Linked DNA regions of Homo sapiens. The protein of the gene in region 3 interacts with the protein of the main gene of each other region in a pairwise test. Each region holds a gene or a part of one and is shown on either strand. Other genes may lie near its edges.

The links.
Region 1: the proteins of CCNK (region 3) and TLE5 interact in binary tests that used the Homo sapiens proteins (3 or more experiments, as listed by UniProt).
Region 2: the proteins of CCNK (region 3) and KRTAP19-6 interact in binary tests that used the Homo sapiens proteins (3 or more experiments, as listed by UniProt).
Region 4: the proteins of CCNK (region 3) and USP54 interact in binary tests that used the Homo sapiens proteins (3 or more experiments, as listed by UniProt).

The regions. Positions count from the first base shown.
Region 1 is NC_000019.10:3,052,471-3,059,500, forward strand, and holds the end of TLE5 (TLE family member 5), read right to left. Parts: intron 5,273-7,030; coding exon 5,209-5,272; intron 3,887-5,208; coding exon 3,842-3,886; intron 3,257-3,841; coding exon 3,194-3,256; intron 1,725-3,193; coding exon 1,650-1,724; intron 1,571-1,649; coding exon 1,349-1,570; 3' UTR 440-1,348; downstream 1-439. UniProt on the Homo sapiens protein: Transcriptional corepressor. Acts as a dominant repressor towards other family members. Inhibits NF-kappa-B-regulated gene expression. May be required for the initiation and maintenance of the differentiated state.
Region 2 is NC_000021.9:30,541,020-30,546,708, reverse strand, and holds KRTAP19-6 (keratin-associated protein 19-6), read left to right. Parts: upstream 1-4,844; 5' UTR 4,845-4,875; coding exon 4,876-5,052; 3' UTR 5,053-5,174; downstream 5,175-5,689. UniProt on the Homo sapiens protein: In the hair cortex, hair keratin intermediate filaments are embedded in an interfilamentous matrix, consisting of hair keratin-associated proteins (KRTAP), which are essential for the formation of a rigid and resistant hair shaft through their extensive disulfide bond cross-linking with abundant cysteine residues of hair keratins.
Region 3 is NC_000014.9:99,498,389-99,505,418, reverse strand, and holds part of CCNK (cyclin-K), read right to left. Parts: intron 5,230-7,030; exon of another isoform or gene 4,654-5,229; coding exon 4,548-4,653; exon of another isoform or gene 4,064-4,547; coding exon 4,006-4,063; exon of another isoform or gene 3,213-4,005; coding exon 3,043-3,212; exon of another isoform or gene 2,701-3,042; coding exon 2,435-2,700; exon of another isoform or gene 1,809-2,434; coding exon 1,775-1,808; exon of another isoform or gene 1-1,774. UniProt on the Homo sapiens protein: Regulatory subunit of cyclin-dependent kinases that mediates activation of target kinases.
Region 4 is NC_000010.11:73,525,338-73,532,367, forward strand, and holds part of USP54 (ubiquitin carboxyl-terminal hydrolase 54), read right to left. Parts: intron 5,499-7,030; coding exon 5,367-5,498; intron 5,187-5,366; coding exon 4,806-5,186; intron 4,575-4,805; coding exon 4,343-4,574; coding exon of another isoform or gene 4,168-4,342; exon of another isoform or gene 3,852-4,167; intron 1,444-3,851; coding exon 1,310-1,443; intron 1-1,309.

The DNA.
Region 1 (7,030 bases), on a different chromosome or scaffold from region 3:
AGCTGGAATTACAGGTGCACGCCACCATGCCCGGCTACTTTTTGTATTTTTTTTTTTTTTGAGATGGAGTTTTGCTCTTGTTGCCCAGGCTGGAGTGCAGTGGTGCGATCTCAGCTCACCGCAACCTCCTTGAATTCAAGTGATTCTTCTGCCTCAGCCTCTTAAGTAGCTGGGATCACAGTTGCCCACCACCACGCCCAGCTTTTTTGTATTTTTAGTACAGACAGGGTTTCACCATGTTGGCCAGGCTGGTCTCGAACTCCTGGCCTCAAGTGATCTGCCTGCCTCAGCCTCCCAAAGTGTTGGGATGACAGGCGTGAGCCACACCGCACCGGGCCACAGCTAGGAACTCCTGATGTTCTAGGAGGATGTCTCACATTGGAAGGAACCCCGTCCTCCCCCGGGGGCAGCCACAACACAGAGGCAGGGACACAGCACCGAAGCTTCTCACATCTTTATTGGAAAGGCACAGCTAAGCCCACCCTTGATACAGCATTTTCCACTTCTCTCTGTAGAGATCAGACGATTGAACACGAGATAAGCTGACTATATACAGACACAGGTGTGGGTGTTGCTTTTTTTTAAAAACACTTTTGTCTTTTTTTTTTTTTAATATCCCCTTTCTTAAAAGACAAGCTAGTATACTGGAAAAAGAAAAAAATAATAATAAAATAAAAACCAAGACAACTTTAGTACCCTCATCTTTATTTGGGAAGGGGAGGGGGAATCCTGGGTCGCCCACCCTCACCCTGCTCCTCCCAGCTCAGCTAAGCTCGTCCCTCGTGCCCCCCCTTTTGTGGGCGATGGGAGAGGACCAGGTGGGCGTGGAGGTGTCTGGAACTAGCAGAGGTGGTGAGTGGGGCAGGTGGAGGTGGGAGCATACCTGGGACCCGGGGTCGGGGGAGACTCGGGGTGCCCAGGACGGGAAAGGGGCAGCTAGCATTGCGTGCATGCAGTACCAGGGTGAGAGGGCTGTGGCCCAGGCAGACTGTCGGTTACACATGTTCAAAACGGGGGAAGGGCCGGGGCTGCTGCGCTTCGCGAGGTCTTGCTCCCTTGGGACCTGGTCTCCCATCTGACCCTCCAGGCCTTAGCTTGCCTCACATGTCAGGGCAGGTATCCACCTAACCAGGCTGCAGGGGAGGAGGAGGGAAGCCGGGAATGGGGTAGGAAGAAAGCTAGAGGTGGCCTGCAAGCTGGGCTGGGGCCCCCGCCGGCGGCCACCATAAATACTATGGGAGTTTAGCCAATCCCGAGCTCCGCTGTGTCTTGTGCTAAACATTCCTTTCTCTCCGTGCCTCTGTCTCCCCTCTGTCCCCCCTCCCAACCTCCCTGTCCCGGCCCCCTGCTAATCCGACTTCTCGCCATCATCCTCCTGGTGGGTGTCACCATCGTGCCCGTTCTTGTCTTCCTTGGAGAGGTGGGCCTGGGAACCCAGCGCGGACAGCGAGAGGAGGCCGGTGCCTGCGCTGACCGCCGGCAGCGAAGGCGGCTGCAGCCCCACGGGTAGTGGGGTCAAGGGCAGGGCCAGGGCCTGCAGCTGGGACAGCTGGTGGGCTTGGAGCTGCTGCTGCAGGGCGGGGGAGGGGAACATTAGCTGCCTGGGGCCCACCTGTCCCCCGCCCACCCGCCCAGGTCCCCATACATACTCGGATGATAGAGTTCAGCTCGGGAGCGGTGACCTGCTTGGCCCTCTCAATGGCTCCCAAGACCTGCTGCTGGTGCTGGAAGGGGGTCGGGGGAGAGGAGAGGCAGTGATTCCTCCTGATCCTGGGAGAGGAGAGGGGGACGGCCCTGAGGCCAGGAGGAGCCCCACTACCAAGTGGGCCATCATGTCTGCTCCTCCCAGTGGTTTTCAACCCCATCAGAAAGCACCCTCCCTCTCTCCAACTGCTTCCTTTCACCAAGCTCGTCTCTTCGTCTGGCCAACAGAGACAAATGGAAAAGTGCAGAAAACAATTAAAAGGGTTTTGTGCTAAGTAGTTAGGAAACAGCTTTTGAGTGAGCCCGGGAGAAACCCTGGATCCTGACCTATCCTATGTGCACAGCCACCTGCAAAGATGTGAAACATGTGAATGTTTGTGCAGTACACAACCTGCCCAACTGTACAGGGACGTCCTGATCCTAGGAGCTCCAAGACTGTGCCCTGAGTCTGGCCAAATTGAGCCCTTCTCCTACCATGGCTGGGGAGGGCCCAATGAATTCTGGCAGGGCTGGCTGGGGAATGGGCTCAGATTCAGGGCAGTTCCTCCCTGAGCTCTCCCCAAACACCTGACTCTGTGGCCAGCAGATGCTAGAATCTACCAATCTCCCTTTTTGCCTTGGCTACCAGGAAGCCTCTGTTCTGAAGGGCTCCAAGTGCCCTTTTCTCTAGGGCTTTCATTGGGTCCTGCTAAGACTTGTCCCTGGGCAAAGCAGGGCACCCAAAGGATCCTGAGATACCCACAGGGATTGAAGAGGAAGTTACAAACTTTTGACAGTAAACTTGGCAGGGACAGGAGATGGGCCTTACATGGCCCTGGGGAGGGGCGGCCTCGCATCCTGAGCCTCAGAACCCAAGAAAGGAGAAGAGGAGCTGGGCGTCAGGTTCATCTGGGTGTGTGTGTGCATGTGGTAATGTGTGCTCAGGATCACGTGTGCCCACGTGTAGCTGCACATTCCTGCATGCGTGTCCCTGTGCTGTCTGCACACACGTGTATCCGTGTCTGCATCTGTGTATCTCCCGTGTGTTGATGTGCTCGTGCCTATCTGTGTGGCTGTGTCCATGTGTGACCACCCTGTGCTACCCCTTCCCCCACAATCCCCTAACACCCTCTAGTCCTTGGTCCTGTGCAGCCCGCATGGCCTGGAGGAGGATGTCTCAAGAGGGTGAAAGGAGGAAGAGAGATGAGAAAAAAACATTCCTGGTGCAGTTTAGGCCCATCTGACATTTCTACCTATGACATGACTCACTCCAGCTGGGAATTCCAGAGCAGGGTGAGGCCCGCCCCCCACACGCCTGCACCCCTGGAGTGTCTCTGGCCCGGGGATTCTTCTGCACAGGCCGGCTCTGGTGTTCAGAGCCAGGGAGGTCCAGAGAGGGGAGGCGTGTGCCCTGGGGCGCCCAGCACACCACCCAAGATGGCTGCAGTGGACAGGGGCTGGGCAAGTGCGGGGCCCCCTCACAACCCCTCCCCAAGGCCCTGGCTCTTACCTCTTGGGAGAGGTAGGGCAGGACCTGGGCACAAATCCCGTTCAGCCTTTTGACGATCTCAGCCTGGAACACACAGATGAAGCCGGCTTCAGTCCTGGGCGGGTGGCAGGTGCAGGCTAGCCACAGGAGGCCTGCGCGGGGCCCGGCCCAGCCCTGCCACTTGCGGCTTCTAAGAGGGGCTAGGTCTGGCCAGGGTGGGATGAGCAAAGCCGTGTTCGGGCCCGAGGGCAGCCAGTCAGTGGCAAAGGTGGGGCTGGACACCGGCTGTCGCCTGCAGCTTAGAGTGAGGTAAGTGCAGGATGAGGCCAGACTGCACATTCCTCGGGGGTCGGCCACTCAGGCCCCTGGCAGGTAGTAAGCGCTTGTGCGAATGTAGGGAGGGCTGGGGGCCGTAGGCTGTGGGGAAGGTCTCTGCCCCTCCCCACCACCGGGAGAAACACTCCCAGGGAGGCCTGAAAAAGAGGCGGGGCGGGGGGGAGGAGAGCGGGAGCTTGGGGAGGGCTTAGGAGGTAACAGGATAACCGGGCTGGCTTGGTGCCCAGCCGAGGGCCGGCCGCTACCTGCCTGGGGGTGCCCAAGGCGGGGCTGGAGGTGGGGGGAGGAGGGGGAAGGAGGAGGAGGAGGAGGAGGAGGAGGAGATGGGCGTACCTGTTTGTGCATCTCGATGTTCAAGCCGTAGGACATCTCGTAGTACTGTATGGGGGAGAGAGAGGGGGAGCGGGAGATGGGGGTGGGGAAGGATGGGGGGACACGGAGACAAAGAGATAGGGGAGTGGCAGAGACAGACAAAGGGGGGAGACAGCAAGAGACAGCTGAGGGCAGGAAAGAAAGGAGAGGCAGGTGGGAGGGAAAGAGGAGGGAGAGACGCCCACACCCAGCATCCCAGCCCGCCCTGGAGAGGGGCAGGGGGCCGCTGGGGCTGCGGATGGAGACTGGGGGCACTTTAGGTCCCTAGCCCTGGCCTGGCTCCTCCCCCACTCCATGTGCACCGCGAGAACACGCATTCCAGGGCTCCTAATCTTGTATCTTTCTATGTCTTGTCTGCGGGTGGGCCCAGACGCCAGGGAAGTTTGCCTGCCTAGGTATAAACAGTGAGGGGTAAACAAAGCCTGCTGGCTCTGGGGCCAGCAGCTACCCCCACCCCAAGCCCCAGATCTCACCCTGCCCCTCCCCTGCTCTAAACCCTCCCATGGCTCCCTGTCACCCCTGGGGGAAAACCAAGTTCATTCCCAGGCCTTCACGTAGTTTCTCTGTCTCTGTCTGGTGAACTCCTACTCATCCTGCAAGACCCCAGCTGTGTGCCCCATTTCTCCATATAGTCTTCCTCAGGCAGGTCCTAGGTCCCTCTCTCTGACCCCAGCCCTATTCTTCTGGCTGGGAGGGTCAGGGTCTGGCTCTGCCTCCCCCACAGTCTGGGAGATTTGGGTACTGGGCTGAGACCCCAGCATCGCTGCTCGAGGGCCAGGCCAAGGGTGGGTAAGGGAGGGGATTTTTGATGCAGAAATCGTCACCTGGCAGTTACAAAACCGAGCAAGTGGTTCTGGCAGCAGCAATGCAGTGTCACACATCAGCCCCCCGAAATGGGTAGGGCTCAGACCCCCTCCCACAGGCTTCTTCTTTGAGCTCGGGCCCAAAGGGGTTAAGCGTGTGGACGCTGGGACCTTGGCGGTGGGGAGGGACTCGGCTGCTCCCCCACGTCAGTTCCTGGCTGTTGGCTTTCACAGCCGGTGAGCCTCCCTCTCCTCCCTCCTCCGCTGCCAAGGACAGCCGGGGGACCTGGCAGGGCCGGTCTGCAACCCGGCGGTTTGGCACCTCGGCCACTGCCTCGGCCATCTGCCAGGCTAGCGAGGCAGGCTCAGCCCAGCAGGGGCCGGCTGAATGGAGAACAGGCCCCGATCCTCGCGCTTCCCAGGGGAGGTGGCCGGGGTTGAGGGAGCAGCTGCCCGTGGTGGAGGGGATGTGGAGGGCCCTGTCGCCCGCCCCCAACACTGGACCTGGGGGCGGAGTGACGTTACCATCACATAGTGACGCTGCATCTCTGACTTCTCACTGGCCAACTTGTCACATTCGAGCTTGAGGCTGAGGAGGCACAGGGGGGAGATGGGGTGGTTAGTGGCGGCTGGGCGGGAGCCCCCCACCCTCCGTTATCCAGGGGAGGAAACTGAGGCTCCAAGTCCCCTGTAAGGGCAAGATCAGCCAATTCTCAGAGGGTCAAGCAATAATTTTTTTTTTAAATTGAGACGGGGGTCTCCCTATGTTGCCCAGGCTGGTCTCAAAAACTCCTGGGCTCAAGCAATCCTCCTTCCTCGGCCTCCCAAAGTGCTTGGGGTTACAGATATGAGCCACCCACCGTGCCTGGTCAATGAAGCCGTAAACTTTCATAGGGGCTGAGGACATTGAATTGAGGGGCAGGGAAGTTGGTAAGAGTTGAGCTCTCTGTGATGCTGCGGGGAGGGGAGAGCATCAGGGCCCCTGACTGTAAGAAGGGGGTGATGAAACCACCCTTGCAGATCTGGTTGGGGGGAAATAAGCAACATTATAGTAACATTATAGGAACAACAGAAGTTAGAGGGGGCACGGTAACGCTAGCTCTGAGAGTCTCACGAGCCTTCACCTCTCACGGTCCCGACGAGGCCCGCAACGTCATTGTCACGCTCCTTTTATAGATGACACAGTGGACACCCAGAGAGGGTGAGGAACTGGCTCAAGGTCACACAGCCAAGCAGCAGCCCAAGCTCTCAACCACAGGGGAAAATTTTCCAGACCCAAATAGAACGTACAAAGAGGCTGAGAGGGTCTGGGGCTGCAAGGCGGCTCCCGGCTGGACTTCCCAAGGGGACCCTAGCTTCATGGGGGGCCTGGACTTCCCAGGCAGACCCCTCAGCTCCCTCTTAGTCCTTCCTAACAGCCTTTTTTCTTTAGCTGGGACAAAACACACCATTTCTCCCACTCCACCTGGCCAGTCCGGGTGGCTGACACCAGAGCTTCCTACAGGCCCTCCCGGGAAGGATGAGCTGTGGGGCGTTTCTCAAAGCCCCCATGAGGGCGTCATGGCCGGAGGGAAGAGAGCAGGCAGGAGGGCCTCCCAGTCCAGGAAAAGAACTGGTGATGGTGGTGGGGGAGGTGTCCTTTAACCTACTTAAATCCAACCCAGCACAGGGGCCCTGCGGACCTGGCTGTGGCTTACCTGCTTCTGCCATCCCCACCCCCTCTCGGACTGGGTTCAAAGCTCAGCCCTTCGTCTTCCCTGCTGTGTGACTCTAGGCAAACTCCACTACCTCTCTGGGCTTCATTTCCTCCTCTGTGAGGTACCACTAACAACCTCGCAGGGTGGGGTGGAGAAGAGTCAATGAATTCAGACAAGAAAAGTTCTAGAACAGTACCTGGCATACAGTAAGCATCCCATAAATGCACATGGATCTTAGGATACCCCAGGAACCTGGCATTTTGCTCCACCGGAGAAGAGTGTGCCGGGTTAGGGATGCTTTGGCCGCCACCAATTTTTCTCTAGTTTTCTTTTAAAATGTGCATTTGTTGCTACCATTAAAAACAAAAACAAAAACAAAAAAAAACCGGGGCTGGGTGCAGTGGCTCACGCCTGTAATCCCAGCATTTTGGGAGGCCAAGGCGGGTGGATCACTTGAGGTCAGGAGTTTGAGACCAGCCTGGCCAACATAACGAAAGCCCGTCTCTACCGAAAATACAAAAATTAGCCGGGTGTGGTGGTGCACGCCTGTAATCCCAGCTACTTGGGAGGCTGAAACAGAAGAATCGCTTGAATCCCAAAGGTGGAGGTTGCAGTGAGCCGAGATCGCGCCACTGCACTCCAGCCTGGCG
Region 2 (5,689 bases), on a different chromosome or scaffold from region 3:
CTTAGTTCAGACAAATAGACCTTAAAATAAAAATTGTAAGACGAAACAAGGTCATTATATAATGGTAAAGGGCCAATTCAGCAAGAGAGTATAACAATTATAAATATATACACACCCAAAATAGGAGCAAACAGATATATAAACCAAATATTATTAGGGATAAAGCAAGAGATAGACCTCAATAAAAGCATTTCAGCATTGTACAGATCTTCTGTACAGAAAAGCAACAAAGAAACATCGAACCTAATCTGCACTGTAGACCAAATGGACCTAATTGATATTTACAGAACATTTGATCCAGCAGCTGCAGAATACACATTCTTCTCTTAAGCACATGGACCATTCTAAAGAATAGACCATATGTTAGATAACAAAACAAATCTTAAAACATGCAAAAAATGTGAAATAATATCAAGCATCTTCTCTGACTGCAATGGAATAAAATTAGAAATCAATAACAAGAGGAATTTTGAAAACTATACAAATACATGGAAATTACACAATATGCTTCTAAATGACCAGTGGTTCAATGAAGAAATTAAGGAGGAAATTGAAAAACTTATGAAAATAAATGGTAACGAAAACACAGCTTACCAAAACCTGTGGGATAAAGTGAAAGCAGTATTAACAGGGAAATTTACAGCTCTAACTGCCTATATCAAAAAAGAATCAAACTTTCAAATAACTAACCTAACAATGCATTTTGAAGAACTAGAAAAGCAAGTCTAAACCAAACCCAAAATTAGTAGAAGAAAAAAAAATAATAAAGATTAGAGGAAAAATAAATAAAATGGAAATGAAGAAAACAATACAAAAGATCGATGAAATGAAAGTTTGCTTTTAGAATAAACAAAATTGACAAGCTATAGCCAGACTAAGAAAAAAAGAGAGAAGATCTAAGTAACTAAAATCAGTTATAAAAAAGAAGACATTATAATTGATATTATAGAAATTCAAAGGATCTTTAATAGCTGCTATGAGCAAATATATGCCAATAAATTGGAAAATCTAGAGGAAATAGGCACATTCCTGGACACATAAAACCTATCAAGATTAAACCATGAAGAACTCTGAAACCTGAACAGACCAATAACAAGTAATGAGATCAAAGTCATAGTAATTAGTCTTCCAGTAAAGAAAAGCCTGAGACTCGATGGCTTCACTGCTGAATTCTACCAAGCATTTAAAGAGAATTAATATGAATCCTACTTAAACTATTCCAATAGATAGAGAAGTAGGAAGTACTTCCAAATTCATTCTACAGGGATAGTACTACCCTGTTATCAACACCAGACAAAGACACATCGAAGAAAGAAAAGTACAGGCCAGTGTCTCTGATGAATATAGGTGAAAAAATCCCCAACAAAATACTAACAAATGATATCAAAGAACACATTAAAAAGATCATTCATCATGACGAAGTGGGATATATTCCAGGGATGCAAGGACAGTTCAGTATACACAAATCAATCAGTGTGATGTGTTGTATCAACAGCATGAAGGACAAAAACCATATGATCATTTCAATTGATGCTAAAAAAAGCATTTGATATAACAACATTCCTTTATTACAAAAATGGAGGGCCGGGCACAGTGGCTCATGCCTGTAATCCTAGCACTTTCAGAGGCCAAGGCGAATGGATCACTTGAGGTCGGGAGTTGGAGACCAGCCTGACCAACATGGAGAAACCCTGTCTCTACTAAAAATCCAAAATTAGCCAGGTGTGATGGCGCAGGCCTGTAATCCCAGCTACTTGGGAGGCTGAGGCAGGAGAATCGCTTGAACCCGGGGGGTGGAGGTTGCAGTGAGCCGAGATCGCGCCATTGCACTCCATCCTGGGCAACAAGAGCCAAACTCCATCTCAAACAAAAAAAGGGGGGATGGAGGAACTGAGAGTTTTTTCTCTAATATCTGGAACATGAGGAGGGTGACCACTTTGACCATATTTATTCATAGTACTGGAAGTGCTAAACAGAACAGTGAGACAAGAGAATGAAATAAAGTACATCCAAATTAGAAAAGAAGAAGTCAAATGTCATTGTTTGCAGATGATGTAATTTGACATTTAAAAACACCTAAAGATTCAGTCAAAATTATTAGAACTGATAAACAATTCAGTAAATTTGCAGGATATAAAATCAACATACACAAATCAGTAGCATTTCTATATGCCAACAGTGAACAATGTGAAAAAGAAATTTAAAAAGTAATCCCTTTTACAATAGTGACATGTAAATTTAAACACTTAGAAATTAGTGCAACCAAATAAGTAAAAAACGTCTACAATGAAACTATAAAATGCTGATGAAAAAATTAAGAGGACACAAAAAATGGAAAAAATATTCCATGTTCATGGATTGGATCAATATTGTTAAAATGTTCATACTACCCAAAGTGCTCTAAAGATTCAATGCAATCTTATTAAAATACCAAAGACACTCTTAACAGAAATAGAAAAAAAAATTCTAAAATTTTTAAGGAGCCAAAGAAGACACAGAACAACCAAAGTTATCTTGAGGAAAAAGAACAAAACGAAGGATCACATTACCTTCAAATTATATTACAGAGCGATAGTAACCAGTAACAGCACGGTACTGTAATAAAAACAGACACATAGACCAACGGAACAGAAGAGAGAACCCAAAAACAAGTTCAGACACCTACTCATTTTTGACAAAAGTGCCAAAAACATACACATGGGAAAAGACAGTCTCTTCAATAAATAGTGCTGGGAAAACTGTACATTCATGTGCAGAAGAATGAAACTAGTCCCCTATCTCTCCCCATATACAAAAATCAAATCAAAATGAATTAAAGACTTAAATAAAAGTAAACTATGAAACTGCTATAAGAAAACATTGGGGAAACTCTCTAGGGCATTGGTCTCAGCAAAAATTCCTTGAGTAAGATTCCACAAGCACAGGCCACCAAAGCAAAAATGGACACATAGGATTACATCACGTTAAAAAGCTTCTGCACAGCAAAGGAAGCAATCAACAAAATGAAGAGACAACCCACAGAATGGAAGAAAATATTTGTAAACTATGCATCTGACAAGGGATTAATAACCAGAATATATAAGGAGCTCAAACAAATCTGTACGGAAAAAAAAAATCTAATAATCTGATTAGAAATGGACAAAAGAACCAAATAGATGTTTTGGAATCCTCATTCGCTATTAGTGGGGATGGAAATTAGTACAACCACTATGGAGAACAGTTTGGAGGTTTCTCAAAAAACAAAGAATGAAGCTACCATATGACACAGAAATCCCACTGCTGGTGCTAAACTCATCTTTAGCATCAAACCTAATCTCTAGTCCCTGACACCATGAGCTACTACAGCAGCTACTATGGAGGCCTGGTATACATCCAAAGGAAGGGAAAACAGTATATCAAAGAGATATGTGCACTCCCATGTTTGTTGCAGCACTGTTCATAATAGCAAAGATTTGGAAGCAACCTAATTTTCCACCAACAGATGAATGGATAAAGAAAATGTGGTATGTATACACAATGGAGTACTAGTCAACCATAAAAAATAATGAGATCCTGTCATTTGCAACAGAATGGATGGAACTGGTCGTCATTATGCTAAGTGAAATAAGTCAGGCACAGAAAAACAAACTTTGTATGTTCTCACTTATTTGTGGGAGCTAAAAATTGAAAACAATTGAACTCATGGAGATAGAGACTAGAAGGATGGTTAACAGAGAATGGAAAGGGGAGTAGGTGGGTGCAGGGTAGGGGTGGGGAGGGATGTGAGTGATGGAGGAGTAGGGGTGGTTAATGGGTACAAAGGAATAGAAATGATGAATAAGACCTAGTATTTGATAGCACAAAAGTGTGGCCATACTAAGTTATACTCTCTTAGTTATTTTAAAATGTATAATTAAATTGCATTTAAATTAAATTATTGATTTAATCGAACATTTTAAAATAAGAGAGTGTAATTGAATTGCTTTAACACAAAGGATAAATGCTTGAGGGGATGGATACCCTATTTATCATTTACCAGTGATTATTACTCCATTAACCAGTGATTAGTATGCATTGTCATGTCTGTATAAAAGTATTTCATATACCCCATAGATATATATACTCTACTATGTATTCTTAAAAATAAAATTTGAAAAAAGAAAAATAATATTTAATGGAACTTCATGGGAAAAGTGTATGCAGAGGAAAAGGTACACTTTTGAAGTTAATGGATGAATAAAAAATTGGGAAGAAGCCTAACAAAAAATTGGCAGAGGAAGCTAATTGAAGGTTTCTCATAGAAATTAAGGCAAGAAAGCTTTACAAAAGAATGAATGGATGGAAGGTTAGCAATGTCAAAGGTCAATTAAAGTTCAAATGAGTCAAAAACCAAGGTTTCCTCTAAATTTGACTACTGGAAATCACTAATGACTTTGTGACTATGCCCTGACTACCATGAAGAGAAGTCCTTGGGTTCTGGGAATGAAGTAACCAAGACGATGGACTGCAAATTAAAAAGAAAAGCAATATGAGGTTATGTAATTACAGCGTTACTGGAAGCTATCAACCCGATTAGACCATTTTAATTACAACACCAGCCTGGCCTTTGAAGTGGCTATAATCATTTTTCATCTTCAAAATATTTTGTTCTTAGGAATGCAAACTAAAGACTAAAAGTCTTTAAATAATAGTTTGGACCCTTTGTTACATAAGAAAAGAAAAAAAATAAACAATTGTTAGACTTAAAATTATTCTGTTATGTGGAAATAAGATCACCTGTCATTGTTGTTCATGACACCCACTACTTAGAGTATAAAATCATTCTGAGAAGTTAGAGACACCTACACTCAGGAAACTCATCATTAGCATTGAACTGAATCTCTAGTCCCTGACACCATGAGATACTATGGCAGCTACTACAGAGGCCTGGGATATGGCTGTGGAGGCTTTGGTGGTCTGGGCTATGGCTGTGGCTGTGGAGGCTACAGATATGGCTCTGGCTATGGAGGCTATAGATATGGCTGCTGCCGCCCATCATGCCGTGAAGGATATGGATTCTCTGGATTCTACTAAAAAACTTGCTGATTCTCATACTCTAACTCCAAGATCTTGCCCGTATGCTTCAGCAAGGCGAACACTTTTCTCAATGTAGAGAAAATACCTACCATTTTTTGGCTTCATGCTCCAGAAGGAACTAGCCATCAGTTTTTATGGAAGAATCTGGAATCATTACATTGAATCAGGGTTTCACCTATTATTATTTAGTCACTGACATCTGTTGTGACATGTATTTTAAAATAGTTTTAAATAAACACGTTTAACTTGAATAGCAAACATGGCTTTATCAATTCATTTTAGTACATTTCAAATGCATTGATGAGACTTCAATCAAGCTGTTTGTCTTCTTTCCTCTGAATTGGTGTTTTTATTTCAACAGTTTTGCCTCAATAATATATTTTATTCAACATATATTCATTGTGTGTCTCCAAATTTGGGCACCATTCTAAGTCCTGAAGATATAAAAGAATAAGATGGACAAAATCACTGTGTACTTTCATCTGTCTTTACTTTTTATCTGTTTTCAGTGGTTTTGTGTGTGATTTTGTTTTTAGAATATGATTATGTACACTATTATTTTTATGACTTAGTTTTAAACAATAACTTATTGCAATCTTCATTCCAATTAGTGTGTTTGTATTCTGAGGTTTAT
Region 3 (7,030 bases):
AATCTCTGTGTATTTTGCATTGTCAGTGCTTCAGAATTTGACCCAGTCACATTTCGAGTGCTTGCAGCCCTCTGCAGCCAGTAGCCTTCGGCATGGCACAGTGCAGCTGAGTTCCTCTATAAAGCTTCCTCCGGATCTGCCCTTCCTGCCCCGCAGCCAGCATGCTGAGGCCACCATGTTTCCCATGAGTGCCAGCAAGATTCTCCCCATTCCTAACCACTTGCCCTATTTACTGCTGCCAGGGGACTCCTTCTCAAATGAATTTAGACTCTGCCATTCCCCTGCTAAATCTCCAATGGCTTCCCTTGCCTCTGCCAAACTCACAGTCCTCCAGGTAAACTCTGTGATCTGGTCCTAACCCACATTTTAGATCCTATCAGAAGCTATTGCCTTTCAATTCATCACATTCCAGAAAGACTCCTCTCCATTTCCCCTGATTCTCAATTCCTTTGCTCACTTGCGTACTTCCAACTTATTGCTCCATCCTCCCCCTCTGCTCTCGCTGCTCAAATGCAACTCTTCCTTCAAGGTCATATATAGTTTGTTTCCTGCCTCTGACAGACCTGCACGTCAACTCAATTGCATTTCATGTGGCATGGAGTGTAGCCCGTTCTTGTGTCTAACATTTAATGTCGGTCAATTTGAAGCTAATTAAAAAATTCACCTGTAGGCTGGGCACGGTGGCTCATGCCTGTAATCGCAGCACTTTGGGAGGCTGGGGCGAGCAGATCACCTGAGGTCGGGAGTTTGACACCTGCCTGACCAACATGGAGAAACCCTGTCTCTACTAAAAATACAAAATTAGCCAGGCCTGGTGGTGCATGCCTGTAATCCCAGCTACTCGGGAGGCTGAGGCAGGAGAATTGCTTGAACCCAGGAGGCGGAGGTTGTGGTGAGTTAAGATTGCACCGCTGCACTCCAGCCTGGGCAACAAGAGTGAAACTCTGTCTCAAAAAAAAAAAAAAAATTCACCTGTACTGAACTCATCATTCCCTCAAATATACTGGAAAAAAAAAAAAAGTAGCTCTATCATAACTGGAAGATTTCACAGCAGTTTAATGAATGGAACTAAGAACCGAGAACATGGTTCTAAGAACCAGGAACTACTGGAACTAAGAACCAAGTAACAAAGAAAGACAAATGAGTCAATAGGGTCTGTGCCTTCAAAGAGTTCAGTATGATAGGTGGACTGACCCTGTGACAAAACATTTCTAACTTTCTGTTTTGTAATTGTTCCAATTTTGCTCACTCCTTCTGTTTATTTCCAATATTGACATGAACTAACTTTGGGTTCTAGACATGTGACAGCACCTCAACCCAAGTGTGTTTCAAAGAGGCCTTGCCTGCAAGGGCAGCTGGGCTGGGCCGGGCTGGTGCTGTCCGGGCAGCACACCACCCCCTACTGCCCCCCCGCATCTGCTGTGGCTTGGTGCTTGGGAGAGGACTCCTGCTGCTGTGATGGGGGTAAATAGTCTCTAAAAATAAAATTGCAGCAACAGTTCTCCTACAGCCATAATTATACTTTTATATATGTTACTGAGTACATTTTTATTGCCAGTAATGTTTTCTGTACTGATAGCTTCGTAAGAGCACAATTTTAGAATCTATGATCAGGTGATGAACAGAAAGACAATGCTGATGGAAAAGTTTTGTATGAGCTCTAAAGTTAAGATTTAAGGCCAATTTAGATCTGAAAAGAAACAATGTTGGCTAAGAATTTAAAGTTTTGCATATAAACACATAAAACTAAAAAAACATCAGAACAGGAAATTACCTGCTGCTTTGTTCTCTTCTTTGGGAGAAACAACCTGTTACAAAAGAAAATACACAATTGTTAACTGGGATCCTGAGTATGATGAGAAAAAAATGGATTATCCAGGTACCACCAGAATCAGCGACGGCAGTCACTGTGAACAGCCTCGGACAAAAATTATTTCTAGCCTGAACTTTCAGGGCAAACCACGGCACCTACCAGATCATCATTTCTGCTCCCTTCCTCTTTCCATTTACCAAATAAGACAGAATGACTAGCTTTCCTGAATGGTGAGTTCTGAGTAAACACTAAGTTTCAGGACCACTTGGGTGCAGGAAACGGTCCACTGTTTGGGGTCAGGCAGCTGCACAGAAGCAGCATGCACAACGACACTGCTAGGACACGGCAACGACACCGACAGGCTTCAGAACCCTGGCAGGGATGAAACAGGCAGCAGGGCTGGAGCCGGGCAGAGAGCCCCCTCCTGGTTCTCAGAGGCAGCCTGTCCTTGGAGCACCTTTGTTTTCAGGCTCCCCACCGACAAGCAGTCGGACTGCGAGTTTCGGCGAACACCCCCTGCTTCCGGTGTTCCCTGTGCTCGCTTAGAAATGGGAACAGTGCTCAGGTGTTGCCGCCACCTGGAAAGCCTGCTCTACCCAGGGCCTGCTTTAGCCCACTCACCACGGCTCGCTTAACCTGTCGGGGAGAACTGGGCTGCGGAGAGGGTTTCTTGGGCTGTTGGGCTGGCTGCTGCTGCTGGGCTGGTTGCTGGGGGTCCTTCTGCTGGGGCTGGGATGGTTCGGAGCTTTGAGACGGCTGTGACTGCTGTACTTGCGGCACTTGTGGTGTAGGCTGAAGAGATGGGGGCTGTTGCAGCTGATGGGGGGTGTGATGAGGCATCTGTTGTTTTCCTTGTGAGTAAAGATCCAGGATTTGGTGGCAGATGTCTAAATGATAGCCAACAATTACATTTTACACAAATTGGTATTTTAAATAAAATTTTACCTGGATAAAGAATCAGTTATGATACCCCTACGAGGACCTAAGCATGAATCACATTTACAACTCACCCCATCTTCGTTGTGTGCAACACTGGTGTGTATTTTTAGTTTACCAAAAGTATGTGTTTGGACAAAGTGGAAACTATTAGATAATTTAATTAATGATGCTTCTGAAATATTGCTCACATATGTCTATCTGGGAAAATCCATTCTTGGGACTCAGGGTACACATGGAAGAATCATCTCAACATGGAACACCCTCACGAGAACGCTTAGCATGCCTGGTACCTTCCAAAACGTCGACCGGGACATCTTGAACAAACTGCTCCCACCATCTCCTATACATGGGTTTGGAGGTCCATTCTTGTATTTCAAATTTGCACAAACGTCCTGCGAGATACATCACTGCTACTGCTATGATCTCTGGTTCCCACTGCAGTGACAAGGTGGTGCAGAGACTAGTTCAACAAGAAAAAAAAAGGTTAGATAATATGATCTAATATTTATGATTAAACCAGTGCATGGAGATGCCATAACTAACCATTAATTTGCTTATTCTCCCCTAAATTTAATTAAAGTACTATAAATAAATAAACTCAAGTCTTTACTCTTCTAAAGGTACCCGACTAAGTTACTTTAACCATAGTTAGTAATTTCTCTATTCCTTAAAGAATCAGAAGAATTCTAGCACATCCAAAAATTGCTACACCAATGAAAATGACTTATGTTATTTAAACTGTTGAAATCCTAGCCACTCAACTGTTTCTTCAAATGAAATCTTATGGAGGAAGTCAAATGTAAGAGAAGCTTCACTGACTGCAGTGGGATGGGGCTGGCAGCAACTCCATTCACAGGCATTCTGTTTCCCACCACGGCCCCTCATTAGATCCCTGGCCTCTCAAAAGAGTGTTAAGGCTCTAAAACTATACCAGGAAGTATATTTTTGCAAAACCAAATGGGCTCTAAGTAATTAGTTTTCAAAATTCTCCAGTGTATTGTTTTGGACTTATGTTTCAGACTGGTGATAAAATTTCAGCACCTCACAACACCATGACACGGCAGGGCAGAAGGAAACCCTCTGCCGGGAAGCAGATGACCTGGACGTCAGCCCCAGCTTTGCCATTAACTGGCTCCTCAAGCCAGGGCAAGTCAGTTTCTTCTGACACAAAATGAGGGGTTTAGATGAAATGGTCCATAAAGTCTCTGCCTATTTTAAAATACTGTAATTAATCAACATTTGAACATGTATACCTGTCATTTACAAATGTCCATGCCATTTGAACCAACTTTTGAATTTTGTTTTTATCACCTAGAAATGGGGACAAAAAGGTAAATTAATAGCAATAGAAAAATTCACAGGCAGCATCAAGTATTTATTAAAAACCTACCACGTGTTCAGCACCACTCAAATACACAGCAAAGAGCTTTTGCGTGGGAAACAAGGATGAATGATGTGGGTCCACATCCTACCCCTTCTTCCTCCTCATGACCTACGCTGAACCACCATGTATGGAAAACCTGGCTCCAAGGCTAAGTTTATTAGTCCATTTAAAAAATTCTGCCTCATTTTCCTGCCTCTCCCATCACTTGGCAACTGGATGACAGAGCCTGTTTATACATAAAAGGAAACAGCATTAGCAGCTGCAATGCTGAATTGACTGAGCAAGCCATGCCCTTGGTATTTCACACATCAAACTTTGTTTTCCGCTTTTGAGAAGCGTAATTTGAGTGTCATCAAATTATAAAGACTTGATTTCAGAATGAAAAAATTCTTCTGAAAACTTTCTTCTTACCTTTGAGTTGCTTTGCATATTTTAGTAGGAACTGGTATGGATGTTCTACCTGTAAATCAAACTTGATGGTCTGCAGTAAGATTCTCTCCAGAACCATTACTTCCTCCTAAAAATCAATCACAAATGTTAGGACAGTAATTACAATTGCAGGTCTCAAGCAGCATTACAAAAGTGAGCTTTCCTGTCTATTTATTCTCTCTTCAAGTTATATTTTAGCAACTGCCTTTCCTTCCTTTCTCTCCCACTCAGACTTTTAACATGCTCAGAGACACTGATAAATTCTGAAAAGATCTCAAACAGGAAGACAAAGCAGAGGTGTAATGTAAAAAAAAATACTGAAAACAAAAGATCCTTAAAAATATTATTATTTTCAATACATACATGAGTCTCCCTTTACAAAACAGATCTTTACGTTATTGATAATTTGACTAAATTGTAATTTCTTTCAAGACCTCAAATTTTAAAAATGCAATCTTTTAGGAATTTTCATTGAAAACATTTTAAGCAAGAAAGAGTTTATGATAGCCAGCCTCATGAAAACTCAGAGATAAATTGTACCAGTGTGTGTGTATGTGTGTGTATATATACTCATGTACACATATAGTGTATTACGTGCAAATGGGGGCAAATCAATTTTGTGTTTAAATCTTTCATTTATTTGAAATAAATCATCCCAACAACACTTACTGAATAAATGATCATTTCCAATTTTATTTAAAATGCTACCTAAATCACCTCCTAAACTACGTGTGTATGTCTGCCTACACACACACTATCTTTTCTGTTCACTGATCTGCCTGTCTACTCCTGGACCAGGATCAAAGGGATTTGGGTGGGATACAATAGCTCCAGTATTACTTCTCTTTTTCAAACAGTTTCTGGGTTCTGCATGTCCCCCTCACTCAAATTTTAGTAACCATTTTACTTAGTATCATTACAGAAAACATACATGCTATTAATATTCTCATTGGAAACTCAGAGGATTTATAGAATAATTAGGGAGAATGGAGATTTTTAACCATATTGAAGTTTCCTTCCAAAAATTTATTAATATCTTTTCAGTCCTTTAGTTGTTTTAAAGTCCTTTCCACCCCACTAACGAGGTTTCCACAAGGTTTAACCTTGGATATTTTACTGTTGCTATCGTTAATGGAATGTCCTCTTTGATGATACTCTCTAACTAATGTCTTGAACTCAGCCCCTGTACAGCCGACTGTACCTACTGCTTAAAGACAACATAAACCACAACCAAGACACTGTGTGCGGGGAGGACAATTTGAGAGAATTCCTTGTTTGGCATCAAAGACAGGGCGTTGTAGAGGACTGTAAATCTCATCAACAGGTGCAGAGACCCACAGGTCACTGGCTTTCATTTAGAAGCATGGTATTATTTTATAGGATACAGAGATGATTCTATAATTATTATTCCAAATTACATGGCAAGACTAAGGTTTTTCAATCTTAGTTTCCCAAGCATTTTCTCATGAAAGTTTTTTAAAATCTTAGAAACTTTCACACAGTGTAAAAAAAACTGGGCTGGACATGGTGGCTCATGCCTGTAATCCCAGCACTTTGGGAGGCCGAGGCGGGCAGATCACTTGAGGTCAGGAGTTCAAGACCAGCCTGGCCAACATGCTGAAACCCCACCTCTACCAAAAATATAAAAATTAGCCAATCATGGTGGCAGGCGCCTGTAGTCCCCTACTTGGGAAGCTGAGGCAGGAGAATCGCTCGAGCCTGGGCGGCAGAGGCTGCAGTGAGCTGAGACTGTGCCACTGCACTCCAGCCTGAGTAACAAGAGTGAGACTCCATCTCAAAAAACAAAACAAAACAATTTTTTTCTTTGAATGTCATTGTCACCACCTGCTTCCCAGAAGCTTCAACACTTCCTCTAAATTTAGAAACAATTCTTTTTACCAAGTGTACCAATTGGCTTGCAGGCTGTAGCCCACATACTGTTACAGGATAGCCCAGGGCCTGCCCTCCCTCTGTCTTCCAAATATTCAATTAATGGGGTCATTATAGGTCTTTGAGCAAACATCATTCCTCAGGAACGCCTTCCCTCAGCCCCTATTTATCCGGGGGACTTGCCTGGGTCCCTGGGTGGAATGCTATCACAGCACCTTAAATGACCTTTTACAGCGTACACCACAACTCATCATCAAATAGTTATATACTCATTTGATTAAAATTTATCCTGCCACTCAACTGCAGAGTCCATGAGAGCAGAGACCATGTCTGTTCTGCCTCGTGCCTCATGTCTAGTGCCCAACACAAAGGCTGAAACGAATATTACAGAGAAAAGCCACACAATTAAAATAAAGCTAATTAAGGCAAAAAATGTTCCATGGGACTCATGATCTTATTTTTCCTAAATACTTATACTGCCTCCACTAAAGAATTGCCCTCCTGTCTGCAGAGGAAAACATCTTCCCCAATGTCTTCACTGCTCCCAGCTCCAGGTGTTTTCCTTTGGCCCCGAC
Region 4 (7,030 bases), on a different chromosome or scaffold from region 3:
AATGGTTAGATCAAATTGTGGCGCATAAATAGGGCTTATTATACAAACAGGATGGTGGGGTGATATGGTGTGTGAAGAATCTTGTCATAACTCCTTGCTAATTATCTTTTACCAGTTGAAGAACGCTGTTGGTGAATTCTATCCAACTGGTCCAGAATTGAGGACTATTCAGGAGATCATGAGACTCAGTCATTAGTGTAATTAAAAAAATGCTGGCTATCTGAAGAGAAGGGAGAATAGTCTCATGCACGATTCACAAGTTTCTTGAAACAATGTTATTCAACATGAAATAAATTAAAATGTGGGGAATAAATCAAATGTATAATTACAATGGGAAGCCCAAATGTCTTCCACGTGTCTCTAACTATAACTTACTAGAGCCCAGGATTCCAGAGATATCTGCCTCTATAGGCATTGTTCTGCTCTGCCAGATGTCCACAACCTTTAGTATACATACCTAAAAGGGTTCATGCCTTTTTACTACTGCTGCTGCAGGCCTTTCTTCCTGCTACCTCTAAGAATTGTCAGTAACTATCAAGAGAATTGGTAGTAAGACTAAGATATTTAGCCAGGGGTAAGGATAAATTTGAATTGCTTATTTCCAAGTTTTGCAAATAGCCACATGTACCCCTTTGGTATGTCAATTCATAATACTAAACAATAAGAAATCCATTTCCCAAGAGGCTGTCCCTAATCCAAGGAAAGCCCTAGGATTTATTCTTCTGAAGAATGGGGATGTTAGTAACACTGTTCACCATATTTCTGTCCCTTCTTGCTCCCACAAGGGCTCCCTCCAGGTAGAAAGAAATATTCATGCAGGCTGTGATGGAGAACAAAAAATAGATAAATCCAAAGATGGAGCAACTGAAATGACTCTACATTTACATTCTGATGGAATACTCAAACTGTAACTGTCCTCTTTTTTTTTGAAATGGAGTCTCACTCTGTCGCCCAGGCTGGAGTGCAGTGGCACGATCTTGGCTCACTGCAACCTCCGCCTCCCAGGTTCAAGCAATTCTCCTGCCTCAGCCTCCCGAGCAGCTGGGACTACAGGTGCACGCCGCTACGCTGGTTAATTTTTTGTATTTTAGTAGAGACGGGGTTTCACCATGTTGCCCAGGCTGGTCACGAACTCCTGAGCTCAGGCAATCTGCCTGCCTCGGCCTCCCAAAGTGCTGGGATTACAGGTGTGAGCCACCGCGCCCGGCCTGTAACTGTCCTCTAATTTCAAATGTGCTCAGGTAAGTCTGGTCCCCAGACAAAACTGCCGGTCAAATCCAGTCCTCAAATTCAGTGTCATTCTGCTTACCAGAGAAAGGCTGACTCTTTGTCCAGCCACCCATGGATGCTGTGGAGTCTACCTCCAGGATGCTACTGCTGTGCGACTTTGGGATATGACGCCAGGAAGGAACCAACCCAGCTGATCTCTTAGCACTTGGATCCCTTCAAAAGAGAACTCAGAGTCTAGTGAAAGCATGAAAGCAGGTTATAGCAACATTCCTAGGACTAAATCTCTCTCTCAAAAAAAAAAAATCAAACTACACAATTAGAGCTTCTGCTAAACTACTTCTGAAGAATTGAAATATCCACTCATTCTCCTATCTAACCTCATCTCACCTCATTCACAACTTGTGCATCTAGCACAGTATCTGGTACATAATACATATTCAAAATCTGTTGAATGTACTAATGAACATATTGGTTTCATATTTATTTCCTTCTTTCTTACTAAACCTTTGTAGCATCTTCTCATAAGTAAAACTCAACAGGATCCTGTGGACAGGGAAGAACATTGACAGAGTATGAACATGTGGTTATCACCTTTGTAGAAGATATAATCATGCTTTTCAAAGCAGCTCTACTATTAGAAAAATTGCCTTGGCCAGGTACAGTGGCTCATGCCTGTAATCCCAGCACTTTGGGAGGCTGAGGCAGGCGGATCATGAGATCAAGAGATCAAGACCATCCTGGCCAACATGGTGAAACCCCATCTCTACTAAAATTACAAAAATTAGCTGGGTGTGGTGGTGGGCGCCTGTAGTGCCAGCTACTAGGGAGGCTGAGGCAGGAGAATCGCTTGAACCCAGGAGGCAGAGGTTGCAGTGAGCCGAGATCGTGCCATTGCACTCCAGCCTGGTGACAGAGCGAGACACTCCATCTCAAAAAAAAAAAAAAAAAAAAGAAAACAGAAAAATTGCCTCTGTGGCAACTCAGTAAAAATAATGTATGGAGATTTGAAAGTTATAAAGCAAACTGAGCCCTATGGGCAGGGTACAATGAGTGCTAATAAACTGTCATCATTATTATGAATATTATTAGCATTATAAAACACAAAGTCCCAGTGACCCTAAAACAAATCAAAATAAAAACTATCCCACCATACTGGGTGTGGTGACTCACACCTATAATCTCAGTACTCTGGGAGGCTGAGGTGGGTAAATCACTTGAGCCCAGGAGTTCAAGACAAGCCTGGGCAAAATGATGAAACCCCATCGATACCAAAAAAAAAAAAAAAAAAAAAGCAACGACAACAAAACACTGTCCCAAAATAACATTTGGGCTTCTTCTCTGATTTTAGTATTACATAAGTTTTAATTCACTAATCCATTCTTTTTGAGATGGAGTTTCGCTCTTGTCACCCAGGCTGGAGTGCAGTGACGTGATCTTGGCTCACTGCAAACTCCGCCTCCCGGGTTCAAGTGATTCTCCTGCCTCAGCCTCCAGAGTAGCTGGGACTAGAGGTGCGCGCCACCATGCCCAGCTAATTTTTGTGTTTTTAGTAGAGACGGGGTTTCACCATGTTGGCCAAGATGTTCTCGATCTCCTGACCTTGTGATCCACCCAGCTCGGCCTCCCAAAGTGCTAGGATTACAGGCATGAGCCACCGCGCCTGGCCCACTAATACATTCTTTTTTTGTTTGTTTGTTTTTTTGAGATGGAGTTTCACTCTGTTGCCCAGACTGGAGTGCAATGGCACGATCTTGGCTCACTGCAACGTCCACCTCCTGGGTTCAAGTAATTCTCCTGCCTCAGCCTCCCAAGTAGCTGGGATTACAGGCTCCCACCACCACGCCCGGCTAATTTTTGTTTTTGTATCTTTAGTAGAGACGGGGTTTCACCATGTTGGCCAGGCTGGTCACGAACTTCTGACGTCGTGATCCACCCGCCTCGGCCTCCCAAAGTGCTGGGATTACAAGCGTGAGCTACTGCGGCAGGCCTAGTCCGTTTTTGTTTCTTTTTTTTTTTTTTGAGATGGAGCCTTGCTCTGTCGCCTAGGCTGGAGTTGCCATGGCACGAGCTCGGCTCATTACCACCTCCACCTCCTGGATTCCAGCGATTCTCCTGCCTTAGCCTCCCAAGTAATTGGGATTACAGACGCCCACCACCATGCCTCACTAATTTTTGTGCTAGCCTGGGATTACAGGCGTGAGCCAACATGCCTGACCTAATCTGTTCTTTAATACATTTTTTTACTGTGTATATTTAAGGTATACAACATGATGTTATGAGATACATAGAGACAGTAAAATGGTTACTATAATTGAAGGAAATTAATATACCCATCATCTCATATAGTTACCCATTTTTTTTGTTTTTGTGGCAAGAGGAGTTAAAATCTACTCATTTACCATGAATCTCATATGCAGTACAATTTTATTAATTGTAGTCATGTTTTACATTAGATCCCTAGACTTGTTTATCCTACATATCTGAAAAATACAGAAATCTTCACAAATTTTTGTGCCACCTTTGAGCAGGAGCCATGCTAATCTTCTCTGTATTGTTCCAATTTTAGTATATGTGCTACCAAAGCAAGCACTAAACAATTATTTCATTATCCTTAGCAAACTAAGACAGGAACAGAAAACCAAATACAGCATATTGTCACTTATAAGTGGGAGCTACATGGTGAGGACACATGAACACACAGAGGGGAACAACAGACACAGGCCTATCGGAGGGTGGAGGGTGGGAGGAAAGAAAGGATCAGGAAAAATAATTAGTGAGTACTAGCTTAATATGTGGGTAACAAAATAATCTGTACAATGAACTCCTATGACACAAGTTTATCCTAACAAACCTGCACATATGCCCCCTGAACCTAATTTTTTAAAATTATTTTATACATGATAACTGTATTTCAAATAGAAAGTTCTCTCTCCTTTCTCAAGTGCCTCTGTTCTTCCAGCAGAGGGTGCTGTTGTTATAGGAAGTTGAAAGAGCACATAGAGATAATAGCAAAGGCCATCCCTCCACTTGTCTCAGCCATGCCTGAAAGCCCCAAGTAGGTGGCTCACATTGCTGCAAGAGACAATGTTGCTGTTCAAAGGCCAAACAATACCTGTAGACATTTGAGCTCTCAGGCAGGGCTGCATCCAGGCTGACAGGGCTGCTGCTGTTCCTCTCACTGCTTTCATAGCCAGATTCCATTCGCTGGATTAGTCGGGGGTGCTGCTCTAAAAGGTGAGAGCCTGGCCGTGCTGGGCCCCAGCGCTTGTACTGGGGGCTTGGTCCACCAAATTTAATGTCGTAAGAAGGTGGCTTGCTTGGTTCATCTGGTATAAATTCTTTAGCTATCCCAATCAAAAGACAGGTATGGAAAATGAGGTAGATTTAGCATTTGCCTAAAATCAAGACCTAACTAGCTCCTCCCTCTAGCTACTTATTCACTGAACTCATATCCCTAAAACACCCGACATCAGAGTAAAAGTGCCCCTTGCCAGATGTACCAAAAAACCCAGGTTTTAAAAAGACATAAATCAACTTTATTCAAAAGCCCAATTCTTCCCTAATTATCTCCTCACCTGAATCCTCAGAAAAGGGGCTAAGCTGGGTATAGCCACAGTGCTTCCTTTTGTCCTTACTAAAGATACTGTCAATATTCAGAGATTCTCGTTTGGGTCTCCATGTGGGACGATACTTGCTGGAAGAACTGGATTTTGACTCACTGCTGGTACTCTCTATTTCCCAGTCACGAGAGTGTAAAGGCAGGGTCCTAGGAGGTTTTTTGTCAGGCTGGTCTCCTCCTCTGCCCCTGCAGTGAGAGCCTACATTGGTCTGAGAAGCCAGGGATGGTCTGTTATGGATCATATTGCTGACTGTCTCTTTAAAATCTCTCAGCCTGTTGGTGCTGCTGGATGGTTTGGAGGCATTTCTAGGAGCCTGCTTCTCTTTCAGTGTTTCTCCTAAAAACACAAAGAATGAAAGAAATATAGATGTTTAAAGTGATCATGGATACTAGACCCCAATGTCGAAAAAGCAAAGAAAAGCCCTCTGAACAGAAAGGAGAAGCCAACAGTCTGGAGCATGACAGAAGTTTGATAGAGTGAATGAAGGAGAAAGAGAAGCAGTGCAGAAGGGCTTGCCTTCACTGTGGTATCCCGAGGCCTGGGGCTCATCGCCTTTCCTCCTAACCCGACCAGAGCTCCTCTTGCGCTCTATCAGTGACCCTTTCTTGGATGTGTGTTTCTGATTACATTCACTATCAGTCAGGTGTCCTGAAAAAACAAGGAAATTGGGGTAAGCTGGTATCTGAGACTAACCTCCACCCTCCTGAGAACCTACCTAATCTCCCTTTGGGAGTGCCACAAATTTAGAGTACCCATGGAACAGAAGCTGTAGGGCATAGGCTATCTGATTTCAGTGTAGGAACCTCCCAGTAGATAAATGCAGAGAAGGGCCAGGTGCAGTGACTCACACCTATAATTGCAGCACTTTGGGAGGCTAAGGCGGGCAGATCACTTGAGGCCAGGAGTTCGAGACCAGACTGACCAACATGGCAAAACCCTGTCTCTACTAAAAATACAAAAATTAGTCCGGCATGGTGGCATGTGCCTGTAGTCCCAGCTACTGAGAGGCTAAGGCATTAGAATCACTTGAACCCAGGAGGTTGCAGTGAGCCGAGATCACGCCACTGCACTCCAGCCTGGACGACAGAGCAAGACTGTCTCAAAAAAAAAAAAAAAAGATAAATGCAGAGAAGCTGGGAGCATCCAAATTTACAATGTCTCCTGAGCAATGACCAATCTCAATCCCACTCCTAATCTTCCCCAGTGACCCAGAAGGACTAATGACATGTTTCTAGGTAACTTTTTAAAGGCAAAAGTTTTAAAGATTATATAAAAATGTCAGGTAGCCATATACTTTCACTCTCATAAATTGAAGACAGAGTTTTCCTTTTATTTATTTAGCAACACATATCAAATAAAGTCTGATTTTCAGTACATCTGGTATTATCCTGGATACTCCAGACTTTGCCCACAAGAGGTCTGATTTTATATGGCTTTAAGACCCAGTTCCAAGCTTTCCTTAATTGTGGATCATTTAAAGGGCATTTCAACTTTGATTCTCATTCCTATCCCCAACCCATCTTCACGAAACTTGGCTCCATCCAGAGATTACACTTCATAGTTCCTTAATACTAATCACTGGGAAAACCAGGAGAGCTGGGCTCTTTTATGTAACTTGCCCTGCTTCATGCCCATAGTATGCAAATACATGAGCATGATTTGATGACAGCAAAAGTCAGATTCTAAAGGATATAAGCAACTAAATTGCTAGAAGCCAGAGATGAATTAAGCAGGTAAATTAAGTTTGAAGATATGCTTAGAAAAAAAAAACCTAGGTCAAATGCATGGAGAGCTAACAAAAATTTGTTTTCACATGATAGCATATGAGAATCCTTATGCATATTCAAGTATCACCAGTGTAGTGATATGGATACATATTTTCAATCAGTTGCCCCTTGGAATCTTGTATTGCTTTTATTTGGTCGTTTGCTACCTCTGTGCCCACAAGAAAGATTTAAGAGAGGAGGAAATAACTTGGAACAACTAAGTCTTTTTTTTTTTTTGAGACGGAGTCTCGCTCTGTCACCCAGGCTGGAGTGCAGTGGTGCGATCTCAACTCACTGCAAGCTCCGCCTTCCGGGTTCACGCCATTCTCCTGCCTCAGCCTCCTGAGTAGCTGGGACTACAGACGCCTGCCACCACACCCAGCTAACTTTTTGTATTTTTTTTAGTAGAGACGG